Regions from separate parts of the Homo sapiens genome. Here region 2 is linked to region 1. Evidence: fine-mapped expression QTL. A gene starts in region 1. The other region holds a variant in brackets. All regions are shown on one strand. Distances are from middle to middle. Region 1 holds the start of RIPK2 (receptor interacting serine/threonine kinase 2). Region 2 has its middle 68 kb from the start of OSGIN2.

What was found.
Region 2: its variant is fine-mapped to the expression of RIPK2 in whole blood (INTERVAL, PIP above 0.99).

Annotation. Positions count from the first base shown.
Region 1 is chr8:89,752,815-89,765,102 of GRCh38, forward strand. It overlaps RIPK2 (receptor interacting serine/threonine kinase 2), which reads left to right and starts at 5,002. Exons shown (of 11, transcript NM_003821.6): 1 at 5,002-5,419; 2 at 10,015-10,168. The coding sequence starts at 5,247. PARAIL (palmitic acid regulated anti-inflammatory lncRNA) reads right to left here and starts at 4,897. Exons shown (of 5, transcript NR_125822.1): 1 at 4,231-4,897. RefSeq lists a silencer at 4,748-4,867 and enhancers at 5,408-5,477, 6,756-6,845.
Region 2 is chr8:89,828,781-89,841,068 of GRCh38, forward strand. No RefSeq gene overlaps it. Among named protein-coding and RNA genes, the nearest start is that of OSGIN2, 68 kb to the right of the region's middle. RefSeq lists an enhancer at 8,368-8,467. The variant C/T (reference allele first, on the strand shown) is at 5,186.

The DNA.
Region 1 (12,288 bases):
TAAAATAATACATACAGGTATAAATAACCCTTATCTCACGGAAAAACAAATATTGATGTAATTTTATAGAATTTTGAACAGATGAAATCAACATATAGATGTGATTCTTGTTTTTTAAGCCTACTTTGCGTAAATATTCTAATATTTTCTTTCTTGTTTAGTTGATGTATTTCAGCATCGATATCCCTTAAACTTTCTATCTTTAGCCAATTAATTGTGGGAATTGAACTATATGTATATGAAGAAATATATAATTTAATTAATTCCCATATATGACTAATAATATATGTTTTTAAAACTGTATACTGGTAAAACCTATCATGAAAGCTAAAGGTTTAAGGTGGTGATTAAAAAATATTTAGAAGGCTTGTGATAAAAAGAATCTTAGCATTTACATGAATTTAGAAGCACCGAACACTTCAGGAATCAGCAGACCAACAACGTACTATCCATCTTTAAAAGGAAGGAAAGTAAGTGTGTGGAGAAATAGCTATTTTCATCATCTACAGGAAAAGAAAATTAGTATAACTTCAATGAAGAACAATTCAATGACATCAACCAAAGTTACAAACCAACATACTCTGATCCTGCAATTTGGCTTCTGGAATACGTAGATATATATGTATGAAATAACATAAGCAAAAATTAACTATTGCAGCATTATCTGTAATAGCATATGTGTGAAAACAAAGTAAATGCCTATCAATGGGGGATAAATTATGGTATATCCATCAGCGTCTAGAAAATAAAAAAGATAAGAGAGCTTTTTATGCATTCATATGGAAAGATATCCAAGATACATTAAGTGAAAAGTAAGCAAAGTAGACGAGTATATAGTGTTATAATAATTACATAAAAGGGACAGATATTTTATATATATATTTTATATATAATTTATATATAATTAAATGTAAACATGCACACATAGTATATATATATATTAATATATAAATATATATTTATATATACATATTTATATATATTTAAAATATATATTTATATATTTAAAATATATATATTTATATATTTAAAATATATATTTAAAATAAATATATATATTTAAAATATATATTTAAAATAAATATATATATTTTAAATATATTTATATATTTTAAATATATAAATATAAACAGAAGTAATATAATATATAAATCTATATTTATATATGCATATACAATATATGCCTATATATATGTGCATGTTTATTTTATATTTAAACCAATTAACTTTTTATTGAAGTACTATATTCAGAAAAGTGAATGTGAGTGTAATCTCCAAGAATTTTCATAAACTGAACACACCCATGCAACTGGCACCTACAGCCTAGGTCCTGAATCAAAAAATAGAACATTACCATCATCCTAAATACCTCATGATTCCCTTCTAATCAATGCCTCTCCCCTACTAGAGAGAAGATTTCTATAAGCATAAGTTAGTTTTATTTATTTTTGTACTTTATACAAATGGACTCATGCAATATGTACTCTTCTGTATCTGGCTTTTTTCATCCAACATTATATTTGTACACTGTTTAATTTCATTCCCATTTAGTATTATATTGCATAAATGTGCCAAAATGTATTTATCTATTCTACTATTTATGGATATCTGGGTAATTTCCAGTTTGAGGCTATTATAAACACCACTGCTATGAACATTCTAGTAGATGCATACACATGTCCACATACCGAAGCAAGGAATTACTGGGTCATAGGATCTGCATATCTACAATTTTAATAGATACTGACATACAATTTACAAAATTGATTGAACCAATCAACACTCCCATGAGCAGTGTACAAGAGCTCCTGTTGCTCCAAATCCTCACTCACACTTGGTATATTCTGTCTTTTTAATTTTATTCATTCTACTGTTTGGATAGTAGTGTTGCAATGTGAATAAAATTTGTGATTCCCTGATAATTAATGATGTTGAGAACCTTTTCACCTCTTTTTCAAGGTATCTAAGTCCTCTTCTCAATTTTTCTATTGCATTATGAGTCCTTATTGTTTTAAATTTTAAACCATGTGATATGGTTTTAAAAAGTAAATTTAAAAGTAATGTAATTAACAATACAAATAAATTCCATGAAGTTCTATGCTTCATGCTCTCTCCTTCTTAGAGATGCATATTAGCATTTCAAAAGTTCTGAAAAGTTCTACATTTTTCACCACCACAAAACAGTTTAGAGAAATGTTGTCTCCCTTCTGATGTAATTTTCATGGAATTAACAATTGTCTCCTTTTTTTACTTGTATTTTTTTTTACAATTCATTCTCCAATTTTATCCCATAGTTCATTAGATCTATCAAACATCTATCAATATAATTTCTCAAATACTCAAAATTAGATAATCTATCATTTCAATTACTGTAACTACTGTTTTCTCTTGAAGTCTGCCATCTCCCTGTTCAGTGAAAATGGGTTGCTCTCCAATTCTGCCATATTTCTCTCATCCTGGAGTTTCCCTTCTTAATTTCCTGGTCCGGTTTTCTGGATCTCATGTCTTTCTTTTTCTTGGGCTACTCCCATGTTTTGCTGAACACATTCTCTAGGAGCTTTCTTTAAAAAAAAAAAATGACATGGAAAGAAAGTATTTCATTCTTGTATATGTGAAAATGTTTTTATTCTGCCCTTACATTTGACGGAAAGTTTGACTATAGAATTCTAAGTTGGAAGTTACTGTCCTTCAGAATATTGGAAAAATTTCACTTCATTATATTTCAGGATAACAATGACTTAGTAACATTGTTAAGAAATTCAATGCCATTCTAATTCCCATCTCTTTAATTTTTGTTTCCGCCCTCTGAAAACGTTTAGAATCTTCCCTTTAGTGTTAGTGTTCTCACCCTTTTAATGATGTATGTGCCTTAATGTAGGTCTTTTTACTTGGTGGGCCCTTTAAATATGAAGACTCCTGCCCTAGCAAAAATTTTTAAATTATTATTTTGATCATTTCTTCCCTGTTTATTTTTTGTTCTCTTTTTCTAGGACTCAGGTTTTTAATTAATTGACTGGATAAACATGTCAGGCCTCTGAGCCCAAGCTAAGCCATCATATACCCTGTGACCTGCACGTATACATCCAGATGGCCTGAAGCCACTGAAGAACCACAAAAGTGAAAATAGCCAGTTCCTACCTTAACTGATGACATTCCACGATTGCGATTTGTTCCTGCCCTTCCCTAACTGATCAATGGACCTTGTGACACTCCTTCTCCTGGACAATGAGTCTCAGGAGCTCCCCACTGAGCACCTTGTGACCCCCACCCCTGCCCGCAAGAGAAAAACCCCCTTTAACTGTAATTTTCCACTACCTACCCAAATCCTATAAAGACTGCCTCACCCCTATCTCCCTTTGCTGACTCCTTTTTCGAACTAAGTCGGCCTACACCCACATGATTAAAAGCTTTATTGCTCACCCAAAGCCTGTTTGGTGGTCTCTTCACACTGACGCGCGTTAACAGAATGAATGGATAGAAAAGTCTTCTGAGTACTTTTTAAGAAAAAAGCTTATTGGCCGGGCGCGGTGGCTCACGCCTGTAATCCCAGCACTTTGGGAGGACAAGGTGGGCGGATCACGAGGTCAGGAGTTCGAGACCAGCTTGGCCAACACGGTGAAACCCCGTCTCTACTAAAAATACAAAAATTAGCTGGGTGTGGTGGCGGGCGCCTGTAATCCAAGCTACTTGGGAGGCTGAGGCAGAAGAATTGCTTGAACCAGGGAGGCAGAGGTTGCAATGAGCAGAGCAGAGATCGCGCCACTACACTCCAGCCTGGGTGACAGAGCACGACTCCCTCTCGAAAAGAAAAAAAAAAGCTTATTAAGCAATAAAGCACAGAGTATCAGACCATATGTTTAGTGCTGAACATTTTATTATAAATGATCAAAAATGTTTAACATACTATTGTTTACAACCTCCCACTACTGTAAAATCTAACATTGCTACTTTCATTTCAGGTAATGCAAAAATACAAGAAGCATTAGCTGTCTGTAGGCAGAAATCTGTTCGAGTCATTCCTTATTACTGAATCCCTAGAATTAATTAAACATCTAGTATGGAGTTGGTATTGTATATAACATTTGCACTCACGTCTTACAAAATAGTCATCTAAGTAGAAAGGTATTCAAGGCAGAAGGATGGAAAAACGTTTGCAGTCTTTTTTGGTTGGCATGAAACACTGACTGCATTCCTCCCAGATTTATAAGAAAGAAATATTTGCAGTCTTACCTGGAGTTAGATGGATGGACTCTCTCAAGGTTATTTTTCAATCTCTGCACATACATACTTATGGAAGTAAGAAAGAAGAGGGAGAAAAGGCAGATCCCCCATAACAGCGGTTAAACACCTGAACTTGCTCCACTATGACAGGGTTTATCATCCACCTCTCAGTCCTCAAGTGGCTGGAAATATGGAAATTGGAGTCCAGGTAGACAGGTGAGTGTACAACCTCTTAAGTGTGGAGCCCTCGGAATTCACAACACTCCCCAAATCGCTTCCTGCGCAGGCGCGGAGTCGGAAGGGAGTCGGAAAGCAGACCCCGGTGCCCCCTAATAAAGCCCCCAGCCGGACGCTGCCGCTACCGGGGTTTGGCAACTTCCGGAAGACCTGTGGCCCAAAGGAGAATCCTGTTGGGGGAGGCGGGGGCCGGTGGTCGCTAACCAATCCGACACCCGCCAGCAGGCTGAAGAGAGGGGCTTTCCCAAAAGGAAAACTTTCCCAAACCTGGGGGATGGGAAGAGAAGACAAAAGGAGCTCCCTTTCCCACTTCCCAGCCGCCCGTCCCAGCCCTCGGCCTCCGCTGCGCGACCCGGGCGGAGGATCCCGGCCGCAGGCCGAGGCGAGAGCCAGGCGGGAGGGCCGCGAGCGGGCTGCCCCTCTCCCCGCCTTGCCGTCCGCCGCTGACGTAACCTGCGAAGTTTGGGGAGGGAGGAGCTCGGGCGGCCGGAGCTGGTCGCTGCGCGCGCCGGGGGGAGGGCCGGGGCTGCGAGAGAGGAAGCTCTTTCGCGGCGCTACGGCGTTGGCACCAGTCTCTAGAAAAGAAGTCAGCTCTGGTTCGGAGAAGCAGCGGCTGGCGTGGGCCATCCGGGGAATGGGCGCCCTCGTGACCTAGTGTTGCGGGGCAAAAAGGGTCTTGCCGGCCTCGCTCGTGCAGGGGCGTATCTGGGCGCCTGAGCGCGGCGTGGGAGCCTTGGGAGCCGCCGCAGCAGGGGGCACACCCGGAACCGGCCTGAGCGCCCGGGACCATGAACGGGGAGGCCATCTGCAGCGCCCTGCCCACCATTCCCTACCACAAACTCGCCGACCTGCGCTACCTGAGCCGCGGCGCCTCTGGCACTGTGTCGTCCGCCCGCCACGCAGACTGGCGCGTCCAGGTGGCCGTGAAGCACCTGCACATCCACACTCCGCTGCTCGACAGGTAGGCAGTCACTGGGGTTCCCTGGAAGAGCCCTCAACTCCTGCATCCCCTCAAGCCCCCTGACAAGCGGGCTCTAGAGCCCAAATGGCAGTGACCGCTTGGGGCCGGCCTCACCTCGTCACCTCTAGGGAGCCCTTCAAGCTTGGGAGATAGGGAGCACCCACCCTTCAAGCTCTGGCACCGTAGGGAGCACAGGCTTCTCTGGAGATGCAGCAGTTGCATTCCTCCACACATCTCTCCATTACCCTTTCTCTCCTTCCCTCTTACTCCTAGGCGTTCTGGCTCCGTACTCCAAAAATCAGCAATCACTGCCTAACTCTAAACGCTGGGTTTACTGAAATTGATGTGTGTTTATATATAGTGGGTGTGGGTTTTGTTTGCTTTGTTTTTTCCTTATTTTTGAAATTGGGCTGTAGGGCTGCACTGTCCAGTAGGTAGCTCTTAGCCACAGGTGGCTATTGAGCACTTGAAATGTGCCCGTCCGAATTGAAGTGTGACCTAAGTGTAAAATACCAGAGTTCGAATGCTTAGTATTTATTAAAAAAAGAACTTATAATATTTTATTATTTGTTTATTGATTATATGCTGAAATAACATTTTTGATATCTTGGGTTAAATATAAGATTAAAATTCATTTTATGTGTTTCTTTTTACTTTATGTGGCCACGAGAAAATTTTAAATTGTATGTGGTGGTGTTCACATTATATGTTTATTGGACCGCACTGCTTTAGAATCAAGGATGTTTTGCTTCTTATTGTTTTTATTTTGGTTTTGGTTTATTATGTGTTGTCAGGAACGTTTTATATCAAACTCAATACTAGCAGTTCAGTTTCTCCCAGTCTCAGTTTCTCTCACAGGGAAGATTAAGTAGAGGAAATGTGTGCTATTTTTGCCACAATAAATTGAACCAAAAGACTGTTAAATGGCCAGAAATTGTAAATGGCTTTCACTTATTGGTTTGTACAGGTTTTAAGGGAAGGTTAGCATTAGTTTCTGTTTTCAGAAGAACATTACAACCGCGTGCCATAGACCTGTGACTGTGTATTAGTCAATGGGTCACTAGTCTTGTGTATTTTACTTCCTACAGGGATTTAACTAGGCCCAGCATTCAGTTCTTAGTGAGTTAACATCCATGATTACAACATTCTCTTCTCCTCCTCCTATATCTAATGTGAAAATACGTCATCCCCGATGCCTGATTGGCCAGAAGCTGTGAGTATCCAGCATCAGATAAATTCCTCAGCTTCCGCCCTGCCAAAGTTACTGGATTTTCACCTGCCTGTGGCTTTTCTTCATTGTCTCTCACTGTCAGGCTTCGATGGCCTAAATGGCACAGGAGATTTGGGACACTTCTAGAGCTTGTTTCCACTTCTTGTCTATCATAATCCAGATTCAGTGATATACAAGGTGTGGTGTCTGTTTACTCCAGGCCTTATATTCTGTGGAGCAAGTGCTGGACAAGTGTGTATATGTGTCTGTAGTCAACTTTTAAGGGTGGTGGTTGGTTAGAGAGGGTGGATATATGTTAGAACCAGTTATGCAAACACTATATGGAAATGTAGCACTGATGGACCCATTAGGTATTGAAAAGCCAATTGATCCTCCCACTTTGGGTGCTGCTTCTCAGGATTTTGATTTATCTAAGCTTTGTGCAGTTTGGGGACCAAGAAGTGAAGAGGGAGTTTCCTTCCCATACTCATGAACAATTTTCATAGTCTAAAATTCTTCACTGAATTGGGTAGGAAATTAATTCTGTCTTCGAGGAAGCCATAAGACCAGCGAAACACTCTGGCATTTACTGCATCACATTCTTTTCTCCAATTTGTTACTTAAGATCTTATCATTGCAGTATTTATGTAGTCTGAGCATTAGATGAGGCTATGCAGTTGACTCACTGGTGTCTCTTTCCTCACTTATAAAATACGAATAATAAATACATGTGTTTCTCGGACTATGGAGAACAATGTTTGCATTGTTCTTTGGGATGACCTGAAAAAAAATAAGTTTATGCAATGTTACATGCTCTTATTTTAATGACTGGTGAATCAGTCTCCATAACCTGACTTCTATCCGATGAGTGGACCTTCCCCAACAATCTTCCCACCCCTTATGAGTAATGAGTCCAATTGGTTGTTCAAATACCCTGTAGATGACATAACTTTTCTGATTAAATTTTTGAGTTAATTTTGGTGATGTGACTATGGAAGCTGTACTTTACACCTTTATTTTCAAAATGTAAAAATCAATTTTTAAAATCTTTTGGCTTTAAAAAAAATTTCCCACTCACTCAATCTTGCCAAAAATCTACCTTCAAGAACTTTCCTACTATATTCTTTGATCAAGCAATAGGGTAGAAAGAATGCAGGCTTTAATGTCCCATGATTGCAATTCAAATCTGACGCCAACCCTGCCACTTATTAGTGTGACCATTAGAAAAGTATTAATTTTTCTGAGCCTTAGTGCCCTCATTTATAAAGTGGAGCTAATGAAACTATGTTTAGAGGGTGATCTTAAGATGCTAGTGCATATAAAGTGACTGACATGTAATAGGGTCACAGTGGAAAGAAGAATGCCTCTTAATGGGAGGAGGAAAGAGTGTGTGAAGTGTCACTGAGACTTCTGCAGCATGCACTCTCTATTGTTCTTAGTATCCAGGAATCTTCAGGGTCATCCTCTATTGTTGGCCTAAATCTCTTGGGGCAGATATGGAACTATTTCCATCTAGGGAATAAACATTTAATTAAAATGGGTCTCACAAACTGATACTGGTTTCCTAGCAGTTGGAGTATTAAGTGATTGAAGGACAGAGAATGAGAGAAGCTTTTCACTTTATGCCTTCTTGTTACTCTTGAATTTTAAGACATATAAATATATGACCTATTCAAAAAATAAATGACGAAGATTCTTTTGCTTTGTTTTTTTGTTTGTTTTTAAAAGTAGTCCTCTTAGTCTGGTCTAGAATGTCTGTTGCTATTCATATTTCAACAGCCATTCATTCAGAGCTTGGGAGGTGTAAGAACTAACTTATCATCATTACTTACCTAATAGGCTTCTCCTGGAAACATTTCTATTTCTGTCATTGCTGCAGCCAACATCCAGTCACTCAGGGTAAAAAAATAATGACATCTCCAATTCCTTTTCATTTTTTTTTTAACCCCCTACAGTCAGTCACTACAACGCGGGCATTCTATTCACTTAGTGTTTTTCTTTCCATTTCCACTGCTACCTTTGTAGTTTTAGGTTCATGTATTAACTGGTATTAAAATCTCCTAACACCTGACTTTCAAACTCTACCACTTTCTACTAATCCTACATCTTGTTGCCAAATTGATCATCTTAAAATTGTATTCTACTGTCATTCCCCAACTCAAAAACTTTCAGTCACACCAGGTACATTGGCACACCCCTGTAGTCCCAGCTACTCAAGAGGCAGAGTAGGGAGGGCCAGTCTGGGCGACATAGCAAGATCTGGTCTGTTAAAAAAAAAAAAAGTTTCCAGTGTGTATTCTGTATGTTAAAAAAAGCAAACAAACCGTCAATCACTTAGTGACTGCTAAGTGAAGTTTCACCACCCTAACCAGGCTTTAAGACTGAGATATGTCCCTAACCTGTCTTATTCACCTTCACTCCTTTTATATTACATAAAAGGAGTGCATTAAACAATTCACAATTTCCCAACTTTAGCCTTCCCTTTAATTTCCTTGAAATCATTTGATACCTACCTATTGGACGTCTGATACAATTGAGCCCAGGAGTTTGAGGCCACCCTGAATAACATAGTGAGACCTTGTCTCTACAAAAAAAAAATAGGCACGGTTGCATGCCTGTGGAGCTAGCTGGCTGCTGGGGAGGCTAAGGTGGGAGGATGGCTTGAATCCAGGAGTTTGAGGCTATAGTGAGCTGTGATCACACCACTGCACTCTAGCCAGGGTGACAAAGAAAAATAGAAAAAAAAATAGTTAAATATATATTTGTTTTACATATGAATAAACAAATGAACCTGGGAGCCAGTTACCCCAGCAGTCTATTAATATTATTGAGCATTTACCTGTTCTCAGTGATCTTTTCCTGAGTTCTGGTATATAATTTATAAATATTACTGACTTTTATGCAGCTATTGAATCTATAACATTTAAAGGTTTTAATATTCAGGATATTTGGAAAATGTTTATATGGTATGCAACCATAAAATTTAATATAATATTCTAATAAAACATGCTCATTTGAATACAATGTAAACTTAATCATGTAATTAGTTCAAGCACCAATTGTTCTAACATAGATAGACTTTATAAATTTAATACTATGTTCTTTCCCATTCCTGGGATAAGTACAATAATAATAAACCTGTGTTTAGCACTTTTACCTGTCAATGGCTTATAGAAGTTAGTTTGGTCTCTAAACAGACCTGTGGAATATATAGGGTAGGTATTATTTCTATTTTAAATATGATGAAACTAAGGTGCAGAGAAGTTGCATAATTTACATGAGGTCACATAGCTAATTAATGAAAAAAAATCCAGGCTTAGTCTTATAGGCATGATAATTGTATATTTTTTTATTACTTGAATAATTATGCATTTTTTTTTCTTAGTGAAAGAAAGGATGTCTTAAGAGAAGCTGAAATTTTACACAAAGCTAGATTTAGTTACATTCTTCCAATTTTGGGAATTTGCAATGAGCCTGAATTTTTGGGAATAGTTACTGAATACATGCCAAATGGATCATTAAATGAACTCCTACATAGGGTAAGTATTACACAGTTTTAGTGGCCATAATTGCCATTTTTACTATTCAAACTATATTTTACTTTGATTTTATATTTGGTCAGATTATTTAGGGGTATATAGATGAATCAAAGAATAATGAAAAACTATCACAGGGATAAAATTTTACCTTTTGTGACATTTTTGTGTTGATTAAAACACTGTGGATTCAGGCCCTGTACTCTAGATTATTTTGCCTGGGTTACCATTCCTAACATTTATACCAAATTATAGTATTTACATGCATATTACATGGGTAGAAATGGAAGAGATAAACTCTGCATACTGTAAAATCCACTGTTAAGTGATATTTTATTTTATATTAATAGCAATTTCAAATTCAAATTTAATGTTATTAATACCAGTTCATAAAGTTCTGAATTAGCAGGCCAAATATTAATAAATTATCTCTGAATACCAGATACATTAGCTTTTCTAATAATAGACAGTGGTATCAGCCATTTACCCTTTTTCCCAAGGTACCAGTCACTCTCTCTTTGATTATGAATCCCTTGAGTAAACAAATTCAGGGGTCCTCATTCTCAAAATACATGTATTCATTATTAATATTATCATGAGTCTGTAGTTTCAGTAGATCTTTTTAAACTACTTGGTCCATTTTTTGAGGGTTGGCTTAATTAAAACTGTATTAATCTACAAAATCCAATCAATAGATACTCATAAATGATAGTGTAACACAATGCCCTGTAAGTGGCCAAGGGAAAGTGGGTGCCACTGTCAGTCAGTCATAGAGTAACTTCCTCTCAGTTTCAGAATACATCACATTCTATTCATGACTTGTGACCATTTGAAACAAGGATGGAATAAGTAACTGGTGTCAGTCTGTAAGATTTGTATAACTACCACAGAGCCAAGATACAAATATTAATAAATCACAATTTCTCTTTTATTTTTGTTGAGAAATGAGTATAAGTAGAAATCTAACATTTTCTTCCCACACCCCAGCAGATACTCTGGCACCCAAATTTGCAGCTCGCTGGAAATTCTACAGCCTCCTCAAGGGGGATTGCTAACTCCTGGAAAAAAAATCATAAAATATACAGTGAGCACTTCTCTCCCTTGTCTCCATGATCACAAGCCCCCATATTATATTATGCTGCAGAGAGGCCTGGTAACTGCTTTAAACTGCATAATTTTCAGAAAAAGTTACCTTTTTTACAGATTAAAAGATTAAGTTTCTCTAGGGGACAGGCCTCTGTGTATGCCAGAGAAAGTAATGTTCCACGTCAGCTTTTTGTGTTTCTTTTGGTTTCCTGTATTGCATTATTTAGGGTGGGATTTATCTTGAAGTGCCCTCCCCCAACCTCACAAAATTCATTGAGAAAACTCAAGATGTATCATAAACAGTCTAAAATATTTTGAACCACTCCCCCTGCCAGATTGATCACTGAACTATAAGCTGACGCATTTGCAGAAAAACTTCTCAAGAACAGTTTTGTACTTTCAGTAGAAGCAGTCTTTTTCATAGCATTTAGAAAAATGTGGTATGGTGCCTGGTGATTCATCGTGGATCTTCCCAAATTGCCTGATCTTCCAAAGTATGTTCATTCTCCTGGGAAGCCACATTAACTTTTATGTTCAGAAAACATTTATTTTAAGAAAACTCAGATGGATATTATTTGAGTACTATGAAAAATAAAATGTTATGTTTTAAATGTGTCTGTTCTATACAGTTTTAGAAACAAAAATGAGTGTCCCTTCCACAAAAACAAAACAAAAGGCTAATTTTATAAGCTGGAATGCAGATAAATTAATTATATGATTAAATGTATGATAAATTAATGCTTAGTCAATAAATACAATATGATCATAATTTGTAACTGATGCAGTGATTATAATGTATGATTTTATAGTAATAGAAAAATTAAAATACAAATTTTGAATGAATGCCTTGGTATTTACTAGAAAAAAACTGTCTGTAATTTTGTGTGTATTTGTGTGTACTCAAATTACCTGATTAAGACATAGAATGAGGAGGTGGATGTGGGTGTAAGTATATGACTCTGGCTATATACAGATACAAAGTAATTGAGATTTGTGTCAGCTGAAGAAAGACCCAAAACCATGTAGTTGCATGACCA
Region 2 (12,288 bases), 76 kb after region 1:
AAGTATTATAACAGAAGCGAGCACAATGTCCAAAAACTGCATAGAGGCGGGTATTTCACTCAGCTCTGCAGATCAGAAAGGCTTCCCAGAACAGTAATGCTTTAGCTGAATCTTAATGAATAAGGATTTTTCCTGTGGTCAGAGAAGTGGGAAGGAAAGGACAGTTAAGGAGAGATTATACAGAAGATATTGGAAATGGAATGGATAATTTGTGCTCAGTCATTCGGCACTCACTATGTGCTAGACACTGGATGTTATCACAAGATGGGGTGGAGATTGATCTTGGACAAGACATACAGCAGCCAGATCATCTTTTTAAAAAGTAAATCACATCATTTTACTCTCCTATTCAACAACCTCCAAAGTGTGCTCCCCTTGCAAGCATAATAACTATTGTGGGTTCTTAGCATGACCCACACTGTCCAATATGATCAGTTCCCAAAAAATTTCGACAAGCTCACCTCCTGCCACATGCACTTACTCCCTCTGGCATTTTTTCTGTTTTGTAGGACAAACCTTTGGCTTCCCCAGGGGATTTTCTCCCTCCACCTGGAATGCTCATTCCTCATCATTTAGGTCTTAGCTCAGATGCTTTCAGAAGCCTTTCATTATCACCATATGAGAGTAACCCTCTTCCCCCAACGCCCTGCCTTAGACAATCTCAGTCTCATCTCCCTGTTTTTCGTTGTTGTTTTTTTTTCCTTTTTTTTTTTTTTTTTTGAGATGGAGTTTCACTCTTGCCACCCAGGCTGGAGTGCAATGGCACCATCTTGGCTCACTTCAACCTCCACCTCCTAGGTTCAAGTGATTCTCGTACCTCAGCCTCCCAAGTAACTAGGATTGCAGGCACTCACCACCACGCCCAGCTAATTTTTTGTAATTTTAGTAGAGATGGGTTTCACCATGTTAACCAGGATAGTCTCAATCTCTTGACCTCGTGATCCACCCACCTCGGCCTCCCAAAGTGCTGGGATTACAGGTGTGAGCCACTCTTAGGCCCCATCTCCATTTTACTCTCATAGTATTTATTACAATCTTAAAATGCCCATTTCTTTGTGTTATCTGCCTCCTCCAACAATACTCCACAGAAACAGAGATCTTATTTGTCTCTTAGACACTGCTCTAGCTTCAGCATCTAGAAGACTTGGCAATTATCTATTGGCTAAATGAATAAATAATGACCTTGAGAGTGAGTAAGCTGAGGGATGTTCATGATCACGAGAAGTGAGATTAGTTTAAAGAGCTTTCCTGGGTAAGAGTAAGCTCAGAGTAGGAAACTGAAAGGCGGATTGATGAAGATATAAATAATAATCCATGAGGAACTACATTATAAAAGTTTCTTTAAAAAGATTCTTAACATAGTAAGCATGACTGTATACATTGTGAGTATACAAACCTGGAAATTTATACCAGTGAATTTAAAATTGCATCTCTATAACACCATAAATCAATTTATTGTTTTGGCAAAGTATGGTAGCTATGCTGTCTCTTCTGTTGGAAGACATCTTTCAACTCATTATCTATTATTCTTTTAGCTACTGATTCTATGCCAGGCTCTCAATTATAGGATTCATGTGCTTAAGGAAAATATAGCCTGAAAGACCAAATCCAATCAAAGTAGGTAAAATATATACTGTCTGAAATTGCCTCACCATATGGCTTGAGAATTTCTCAACTAGCATTTATTTATGCATTATTTGTATGGTTTTTTATTTTTAAAATTTCCTTTTTTTCTTTGTTCATACCGAGTCCTGCACGTCTTATTAATTTTTTAAATAAAAGAAATACCTATGAGAAAGAGGCCAGGCATGGTGGCTCACGCCTGTAATCCCAGCACTTTGGGAGGCTGAGGCAGGTGAGTCACCTGGTTTCAGAAGTTTGAGACCAGACTGGCCAACATGGGGAAACACCGTCTCTGCTAAAAAAAACACAAATATTAGCTGGGCATTGTGCTGCCACCTGTAATCCCAGCTACTCGAGAGGCTGAGGCAGGAGAATCACTTGAACCTGGGAGGCAGAGGTTGCAGTGAGCTGAGATCGCGTCACTGCATTCCAGCCTGGGTGACAGAGTGGGACTCCATCTCAAAAAGAAAAAAAAAATACCTATGAAAAACAAAGACAACTTTTTAAAAACCTACTCTTTATCAAACATACATACCTAGGAATTTATCGTAAGGATAAAATTTAACAGAATTGAAAAGATAAGTGTGGCAATGTTAACTTGTTAACTATACTCTTATTTGTAAGAATAAAAACAAACAATAACAAAAGAAACTATGCATCAACTTGGAGGAGAATTCCGTGGCTTATAAAAATGATATCCCAAAAAACATAGAAAAATATTTATGATTACATATCAAATGAAAATAGCAGAGCCTGACATGGTAGCCTGCGCCTAGGATCCCAGCTGTTTGTGAGGCTGAGGCAGAAGAAGCGATTGAGGCCAGGTGCAGTGGCTTACGCCTGTAATCCCAGCACTTTGGGAGGCCAAGGCGGGCAGATCACCTGAGGTCAGGAGTTCGAGACCAGCCTGGCCAACATGGTGAAACCCTGTCTCTACTAAAGATGTGAAATTATCTAGGCATAGTGGAGGATGCCTGTAATCCCAGCTACTTGGGAGGCTGAAGCAGGAGAATGGTGTGAACCTGGGAGGCGGAGCTTGCAGTGAGCCAAGATAGATCGCGCCACTGCACTCCAGCCTGGGTGAGAGAGAGAGACTCCGTCTCAAAAAAAAAAAAAAATTGATTGAGCCCAGGAGTTTTTGAGTCTGCGGTGAGAGCTATAATCATTCAACTGCGCTCCAGCCCAAGTGACAGAGCAACACCTCGTCTCTTAAAAAGAAGAAAGAGAAAATAAGAGAATACAAAATAACATTAGTAGTATAGCATGTTGGGTCAAAAACAGATTTTTGGAATATGACAATCCTGATCCAAATCACATTTAGTTACTTAGGAACTATGTGACTTTGGGCATGTTCCTTATCCTTACTAAGGCTCTGTTTTCTCATTTGTAAACTAAGAATACCAATAGCACTAATTCTATCACATAGGAACAATGCTTTTGTTAACTGGAATTCACATTTAAAAATTTTATCGGAATGCCCCCATTAAAAATATTCATTTGAAAGTCATTTACACTCAAAAATTTCACCTTCTTTGCAACATACTTTATATCTTAGATTTAAATTTCCATGTTCATCATGAAATAACTGACAGAATCTACTGCTGTGTTGTCAAATGTTTTGCAGAACTCGATAACTCTACACTCTTCACAGTGAATAAGCCTTAAAAATTAAAACTAAGCAACTGAAAATAGAGTGCTAGTTATTTAAGGAAGTTATGGCTCTCATTGTTTTTTTCTTCCATTGCATTCATGGCTCAACATCAAAGCCATTTATCTTATGAAAGGACTTCAATAAAGTTTCATTAGAAAACTTAATTAAGAGAAGTTGAAATATTAACAGAGTAGAAAAGAAGGAAATAATGATCAATCACATAAAATAGGAAAAGAAAGCAAAATTAGTGAAAAAGTACTTGTACAGAGAACAGATGAAATGGGTTAATGAAATGGAATAATAAATCTGTGTATAACTTTCACAGATGGCTATGATTCCAGATATGATATCTACATGCAGCATTTAGTATACTTGATAGTTTCTTTTTAACTCACTCAGCAATTGTAAATCTATAAAATTTAGAAATGCTGAGATAATATGACTTGCTGTTTCTGGCTCATGGATTTGTCACTCAAGGCTGTGATACAAAACACATTATCAAGCTCACCAGGCTGCCTCTTTCATTCAGTGGAAGAGGGCTGTAAAGGATACCATATTTGCCTACAAATGTTAACTAGCTCATTTGCTCCTGCATCATTGGCAGCACTTCATGAATGTCATAAATACCAACAGGCATTTCTATTGCCTCTTTTATAATAAGTTTATTGAGATATTTATACTTTTCTACCTAGAGATGTTTTTGATTATCATCAGTGCTACAAATTGGGATAACTGCAGTAGTAGATCCCAAGAGATTTCTATCCTGATAATTGGGGGTGGGAGTAGATGTGTTTCTTAGTTGGAAGGCACAGTTAAAAGTAATTTTAGTGGGCACAGTGCATCCACCTATAGTCTCAGTCACTCAGCAGGCTGAGCTGGGAGGATCGCTTTAGCCCAGGAGTTTGAGCCCAGCCTGGGTAACACAATGAGACCCCATCTCAAAAAATGATAATAAATAAATAATAATTTTAGTTTCCCATTCACTTGATGCTTTTCATGATCAAGCGAAGGTTGGGCTAAAGATTCCAGTATTAGGAGGTTCCCAAAGACAGTTGAGAGTTGTATTTTCACGGGATCAATTTTCCTGGGGCTTAGGGCGATCTTAAAAGTCACAATCAGCTCTGAATTTGTTGCTACACAAGCAAAACTAAACTTATAAATCTGGACCCATTGCTATATATCACCTACATAACAAGATGGGGCCATGCAGTGGAGTAGAATAAGGTGACCATAACGGAAGAAGCTGTAAACATCTTACACTGGAAAAATAGTGGAATAAAGAGCAGTGTCAGAGAAAATAGGCCATGTGGTAGCTCCAACATTTATGTAATCATTTATTTTGCTTCCTTGTATCCCTAGCTAAGCCTCTTCTTCCTCTGTGTGTGTGTGTGTGTGTGTGTGTGTGTGTGTGTGTGTGTGTGTTTGGTTGTGTATCCTCTTCCTGATAAGATTCCCTCTTTACACCGGTACAATCAACTCCTTAATTGGAATTAGAATTTCTCTGTCTGGAATTTATACATATATCTTAGGATTGTATTTACCAGTAAAAAAAGCCCTTCAAGTTTACAAAGACTATATGGTAAGAAATCTAAGCTTAATTTTCCTTTCATTGCACTACTTGACTTACAACAGTAACCATGCAAATGGATTTATGCTTCAATGTGTAAAATGAAAGGACTTTCCTCCTTCACTTCGCACATGTACACATACACATCTGAAGGCATTTAGCAATGTGTCCAGCACAAAACAGACACTTAATTAATGTTACTTTCTGTTTCCTTTTGAAGAACAGTGTGTTAGCCACCTACACAACACATTAAGGAATTAATGGGCAAAGCAAAAGGCCAAGAGAGAATAGCTCAGTAGTTAGAAATATGAGCTTCGGTATCAGACCGGATTTTGAATTCTGGC[C/T]TTACCATTTAGCAGCTCTCTGTCCTTAGAAAGATCACTTAAACTCTGATTCTCAGTTTCCTCTGGTACAAAGTGAGGATAATACTACTTAGGCCATAGAATGTTTGTTAAAAGTAACAAGCTATTGCATGCATGCAACACACAAAGCACAGTTCCTAGAATATAATATGTACTCAATTATGAAAAGAATTTTAATTTCTTTTTAAAACGGCATACCCACTAATCATTAGAGTAAAACACAAATCAAAACCACAATGAGATGTCACCTCATACCCATTAGGATGGCCACTATCAACAAACCAGAAAATAACAAGTATTGGTGAGGATGAGGAGACATTTGAGTCTTTGTGTACCGCTGGTAGAAATGTAAAATGGTGTAGCTGCTCTTGAAAACAGCATGATTCCTCAAAAAACTAAAGACAGAATTACCATGTGAGGTAGCATCCCACTTCTGGGTATAAATACAAAAGAATATAAAGCAAGAGCGCAAAGAGGTATTTGTACACCTATATTCAATGCATCATTATTCACAAGAGCCAAGATGTGGAAGTAGCCTGAAATTCCGTTTATAAATGAATGGATAAAGGAAACGTGTCATATACATATTTAGCCTTTTAAAAAAGAAGAAAATTTTGTTATATGCTACAACATCGATGAACCTTGAAGACATTATGCTTAGTAAAATAAGCCAGTCACAGAGGAACAAATACTGTATAATTCCACTTATGTAGAGCTATGTAGAGTAGGGGAAACCACGGAAACAGAAAGTAGAATGGTGGTTTCCAGGAGCTAAGGGGAGGGTGAAATGGGAGTTGTTATTTGATGGGCAAAGGATTTCGGTTTTGCAAGATGAAAAAGTTCTAGAGATCTGTTACCCAATAATGTGGATACAGTTAACACTATTGTAATAGTGCACTTAAAAATGGTTAAGAGTATAAATTTATATTATGAGTTTTTCACCACAATTTTATCAAAAAAAATAGGGCATACTGAAAAAAAAAAAGTGCATCTTTAAGGATGTTCTCTCTAGCTCTTCTCCAACGCCAGAATACAGAATGAGGAGGAGAAAGGAGACATGAAAATAAAGAAAGTCAAAAACCATTTTTACCGTTCTTAAATTATGTTTATGGGATTCCTTCAGGTTAATGAGGAAAGAAAAATCTGTGTAACTGACAGCAAAAGCTAATTCGAAGCATCCTTTCTCCCTCAGCTTTGGGAATACTCAAAAGAGGGGACTAGAAATCACCCATTATAGATAAGAAAAGTCTGCGAATGTATTTATACAAATGCTTTGCCTTTGAATTGGAAGTAAGAATAGTTAAAAGAGAGGAAACAAAACTTTGAAAGGGAGGGAAGGAAGAAGGCACTGTAGAAAAATCTTACAGTTTGGAGTCAAGATGAGGAGTTTGAATCCTCTTTCTACTTGGTTATCCTCTCTGTGGATGACTTTGTCAGTAAAAATGGTGATGTTCATACTTTCTAACAGAGGTGTTGTGAGAACTAACTCAAGATATTATGTTTGAAATGTTCTTTTCATCTCATGAAACATAATCCACATTTTACTTGTGATTTTACAGACGGCAAACAGTAGCTAATTACCACCCCAAGGAAAAACAGTAAGTAATTTCTACCTTCCTGCTCACGGGGCTGTAATCATTTATATTTTGACACTTGTTGCTAGTCTTGTTAATGAATGTCAATATTAATTCAGTATGGGAAAGTGTGGGAAATTTCTATCTTCAAAGTGAAAATGTGACAACATACCCCCTGGGCATTAAAGGAAATAAAGCATTCTTACTAAAACAAGGAAGAAATTTAATGTTTCTTAAGGGCAAATAAGTATCTCAAATCATAGCTCAAGAATGTGACTCTATTCATGGTTCTCCCTTTTTCTACAGATAATCTAAAATATTTACAAAAGGTAATAACCAAATTCACTTCCAAAGACAAAGGAGGGAATTTCACCATGAAAGAGAGGAAATGAAAGAATTTTTGAACAATGAGGCTGATAGAACTATGGATTTTTTCCAAAAAGGAAATAATTAAATTTTTTTCCTTGGGGTTTTTAATTAAAGGTCCTCCACATCCTAAAGTATGATGGGGGTAATGTCCGTCGGAATACCTCTTGGAGTTAGTTCACAATACTGAGAATTAATGTTTCCTAAAATTGTGTTTCAGTAATGCTGCTTTCTATGTTTTCTTTTTTCTTGTATGTTGTAGCTTCAACAACAAAATACACTTAGTGGCTTTACTACTCTTGACTAACAGATTTGGGTGTTGAACAAGAAAAAACAGAAGAAAAATCTAAGTAGAACTCACTGGATATTAACAACCATGTGCCATTTTCTAAAATAGCTCAGACTTGTCTATAGCCTTGTTTCTTTTGTTTTGTTTTGTTCTCGCTCTGTCGCCCAGGCTGGGGTGCAATGGCACCATCTCAGCTCACAGCAGCCTTGGCCTCCTGGGTTCAGGCTCAGGTGATCCGCCCACCTCAGCCTCCTGAAGGGCTGGGATTACAAGCATGAGCCACCATGCCCAGCTATAGTCTTGTTTCTTGATCAGTTTTGTTTGTTGGTTTGTTTTATTGGCAAAGAGAACTCATCAGATAGGGTGTGTGTGTGTGTGTGTGTGTGTGTGTGTGTGTGTGTGTGTGTGTGATAACCCTTTCTCTGCTGGAGTTGGTTTACTTTACTACTGAAATTTTTAAAATATTTGATTAAATATTTTATATTAATATTTATTTTTGCTTTATTTTAACATGAAAATTCAACCAGTATAATTTGGGTGGGGGGGAGGTGCATACTTAATATTAAAAGCACTCGCTTATGATCTTAATGAGTTCATTAAAGGAAAGTTATTAAGTAATATTACCATAGTAAAAGTAAAGTAAGTAAATGAAAGTTCAGCTCTATCTTCCAGTGGTTATTGCTTTTATTAGCTCACAATGAACCAACATTAGCTTCTTTTGCTAGTGTCTCTGAATACTAACAGTAAAGCAGTTCTGCTGGTTTCCACTTCACTGATCTACTCTTGATTTACATCAACGGTGAACCTTTCACTTAGTTACCTCTTTAGACTTGCTTTCCACACATCCTGTTTATGTGCAGTCAGCAGGAAGAAAACAAGAATGTGGATATGAGCAGGAAGAGAAAGATGAAGAAATAAAATGCTTTCAGAAAAGTAGAAATTTCTATGAAAGTCCCCAGCATATTTTTTTTAAACACTGGAAACGGTCTTTGTGAATCATCCAATCTGACTGTTTGTTAGCTGTCATCCAGCAAATCCTTGAAGATGAGGAACTTGAACGTTTAAATAGAAGTCGATGACACATTCTTTGTCATGTTTTCCTATTTCTCTAACTAAAACAAGAGTTTGCCATGGAGATGTTCTTGAATTAGGCTTCACATCTGTGGCATTATGGTTTACAGAAATAAACCAGACTCCCTAGAATTGGAGTCTGGATTCTAGCTAGACATGACTGTCCAGTGATGTGACCTTGGGCAATTTTCCTTAATTCACAAGGCCTTACGTACCCTCTGGAGTTACCTAAAATCTCTACCTTTAGAGATTAAGGGATATTGAATTTCACAAGAATTCATAAACCCATAAACAAGAATTCCAGAGATGAAGGCATCAGATTGATTGCCCTATTGGATCAGGAAGAGGCAGAAAGCTCCACCATGAGGTGTGGGAATAAAGAGCAGATACAGTTGATTGAGGTTGAGCGTGTCAATGAAAGCAGAAATGTGGTGGGGTATCCTGGCATCTGTATACTGCTCTTCTTTACCCCAAGGACATTCACGGTTGGCTGAGATGCCTGGGAGTGACATGGCTTGAGAGCAGGTTTTTGAAGGATGAAAAGAGGATATTTGCCTAAAAGTGTCACCAGGAAGCAAAGAGAAAGCCATTGTCCTTGTACTTGGCAATAAAGTTCAAGAGTAAGACTATATCTGAGATTGCAAAGAAAGAATAGCAGGTTAAATATGGAGGCATGGACAACATTATAAAAAGTGTATCTTTGTTCAAGTAACACATACTCATTGTTGAAAAGTTAAAAGGTACAGATAATCACAAAATAAACTCACTACAGATAAGTGCAGAAAAAATAAGCACTGTGAACATTTTGCTGCACATCATTGCAGGCTTTTCATAGATAAACCTTCTGCAGGTGTAAAAAGTATCAGATTCAAATATCTGTGGGTTGTGCTTGCTAGACAACTCTTAAGCTGTGTATTGTTAAAATAAACCTTATATAATGTATTGTAGCTTATTGTGAAAGGGTCAAGAAATCAAGATAGCTGTTTCTCTTATTTCCATTAAAAATCTATTCATTTCATGTTAGGAGGACAGTTAACTTGTTACCAAGCAGAACTGTATTTAAAACAAATTCGAAAACTATTCATAACCTATATGTATTTAGTCCTGGTTAGACATAAAGCTTCACAGTGCTGTTTTATGCATCACATTAACCAGCTATAAAACACACAGGACTTTATCTATAGCAGACAGAGAATTTCAGGATTTATATACAGATACCCTACAAAGTCATGTGATTTTAAAATCAGTGTTTTATTATTTATTTATTTATTTATTTATTTTGAGATGGAGTTTCGCTCTTGTTGCTCAGGCTGGAGTGCAATGGTGCGATCTCGGCTCACCGTAACTTCCGCCTTCCAGGTTCAAGTGATTCTCCTGCCTCAGCCTCCTGAGTAGCTGGGATTACAGGCATGCGCCACCACACCCGGCTAATTTTGTATTTTTAGTAGAGACAGGGGTTCTCCATGTTGGTCAGGCTGGTCTTGAACTCCTGACCTCAGGTGATCCGCCTGCCTTGGCCTCCCAGTTCTGGGATTACAGGCATGAGCCACCGCACCCAGCCTTCAGTGTTTTATTATTAAGAACTATCAAGTTACTTGTAAAACTATTCTAATTAAAAGTGGGTCTAAATATTTTCCAAAAAATAGGTTTATGCTCTATATACTGTTTTTTAATTGAGGTGGAATTCACATAACATAAAATTAATTTACACTTTGAAGTGAACAATTCAGTGGCTATTAGCATATTCACAGTGTTGTGCAACCAGCACATCCATCTAGTTTCGGAAGCATTTCATCACCCCAGCTGGAAACCTGGTACCATTAAACAGTTGGTCTCCATTCCTCCCTCCCCCTAGTGTCTGGCAACCACTATTCTATGTTCTAGCTCTAAGGATTTACCTACTCTGGATATTTCATATAAATAGAATCATACAATGTCTGACCTTTTGTGTCTAGCTTCTCTCACTTAACATAATGTTTCTGAGATTCATACATGCTGTACTATCAATACTTTTGTAAAAAGTTTTAATACTTATTATGATTGAATAATATTCCACTGCATATATATATAATATATATATTATAGAAAGCATATGAAATTTTAATTAGAGGAATTTGTTCTAATTCTTTTTAAAGTATTGGTGTAGGGTTCCCTAGTTATTTAGACTATTTCTCCTCTTCCTAATGAAAAAAAAAACATATTTTCCAAAAGTTGGGAAACAGGCTATAGCTACAACCACAACCGGTCCAACCTCCCTCTTACCCCCACCCTCACTCCCACCCATGTCTCTGCTCTCATCTCCCACCCCAACACTCACTCTAAAAAGTTAACAATGGCCAGGTGCAGTGGGCAGTGGCTCACGCCTGTAATCCCAGCACTTTGGGGGACCGAGGTGGGCAGATCACCTGAGGTCAGGAGTTCAAGATCAGCCTAGCTAACATGGTGAAACCCAATCTCTACTGAAAATATAAAAATTAGCCAGGCATGATGGCAGGCACCTGTAGTCCCAGCTACTCAGGAGGCTGAGGCAGGAGAATCACTTGAACGTGGGAGGCCGAGATTGCAGTGAGCTGAGATTGCGCCACTGCACTCCAGCCTGGGCAACAGAGTGAGACTCTGTCTCCCTTAATCATACTAGCTAAGCTGCCCATGGAAGGTAAAAAATAAAATTCATTTTAAGTAAAATTTTCAAAATGTTTAAAATATACACAGGTATTAGGCCCGCTAGATCCAACACCTTTATGTCAATAGTAAGATGCACATACAAGACTTGGTGAGGATATAATTGTTTGCTACAGACAGTCCCCTACTTAAGATGGTTCAACTTGCATTTTTTCACTTCACAATAGCTCAAAAGTGGTTCACTTTCTGTACATTCCTCAACTTAAAATGGGCTTGCTATGGTATTTTCAACTCAGGATGGGTTTATCAGGATGTGACTCCATTGGTAGTCAGGAGCATCTGTATTTGCACATATCTAGGTGATGCTTAGCATTTCCAACTAGGCTTCCTAAATTTATTTTAAATGGTTGGTATTATTTTGAATTGTGTTCACTAATACAATGTAACAAAAATGTTTTAAAATACAATGATAAATAAGTTTAAGCAGATTTTAAATGAGTTAGTGAAAGCACCGGAGTATTTCTGCCATTTTCTTTAAGGAAACTATGCTTATTTTGGAATTGTGATAGACATTTCCTCTTTGAGTAAAGACAGGGTCATGCTGTGTCACCCAAGCTGGAGTGCGGCTGCACAATCATAGCTTGCTGTAACCATGAACTCCTGGGCACAAGGGATTCTCCTGCCTCAGCTTCCCAAGTAGCTGGGATTACAGGCATGTGACATCATGCCTGGCTAATTTTTTTGTTTAAGTTTAGTTTTTGTAGAGACAGAATCTTGCTGTATTGTCCAGACTGGTCTCAAACTCCTGGCTTTGAGTGATCCTCCTGCCTCGGCCTCCCAAAGTGCTGGGATTACAGGCATGAGCCACCACACCCGACCATCAACACATTTTTATTACACTAAGCATTTGGTTACATTTCTTTCCAGTTTCAGCTTTTGTTTTGAATAACCTAAAAGTGCTTCTCACAAGGCAAAAATAACATCCCATGTTAAGTTCCATAGAGAATATCACTTTGGATGCTGCAAGCTTTTGCCTTTTTAAAAACATTAGAAGTTGTAATGGATGAAAAGAAGCCAGAAAAGGAGACTGAGAAGAGCCAGAAATGTAAGAGGGAAATCAAGAGCATGTAGTATGGATGAAGCCAGGAAGGAGTTTCAAAGAA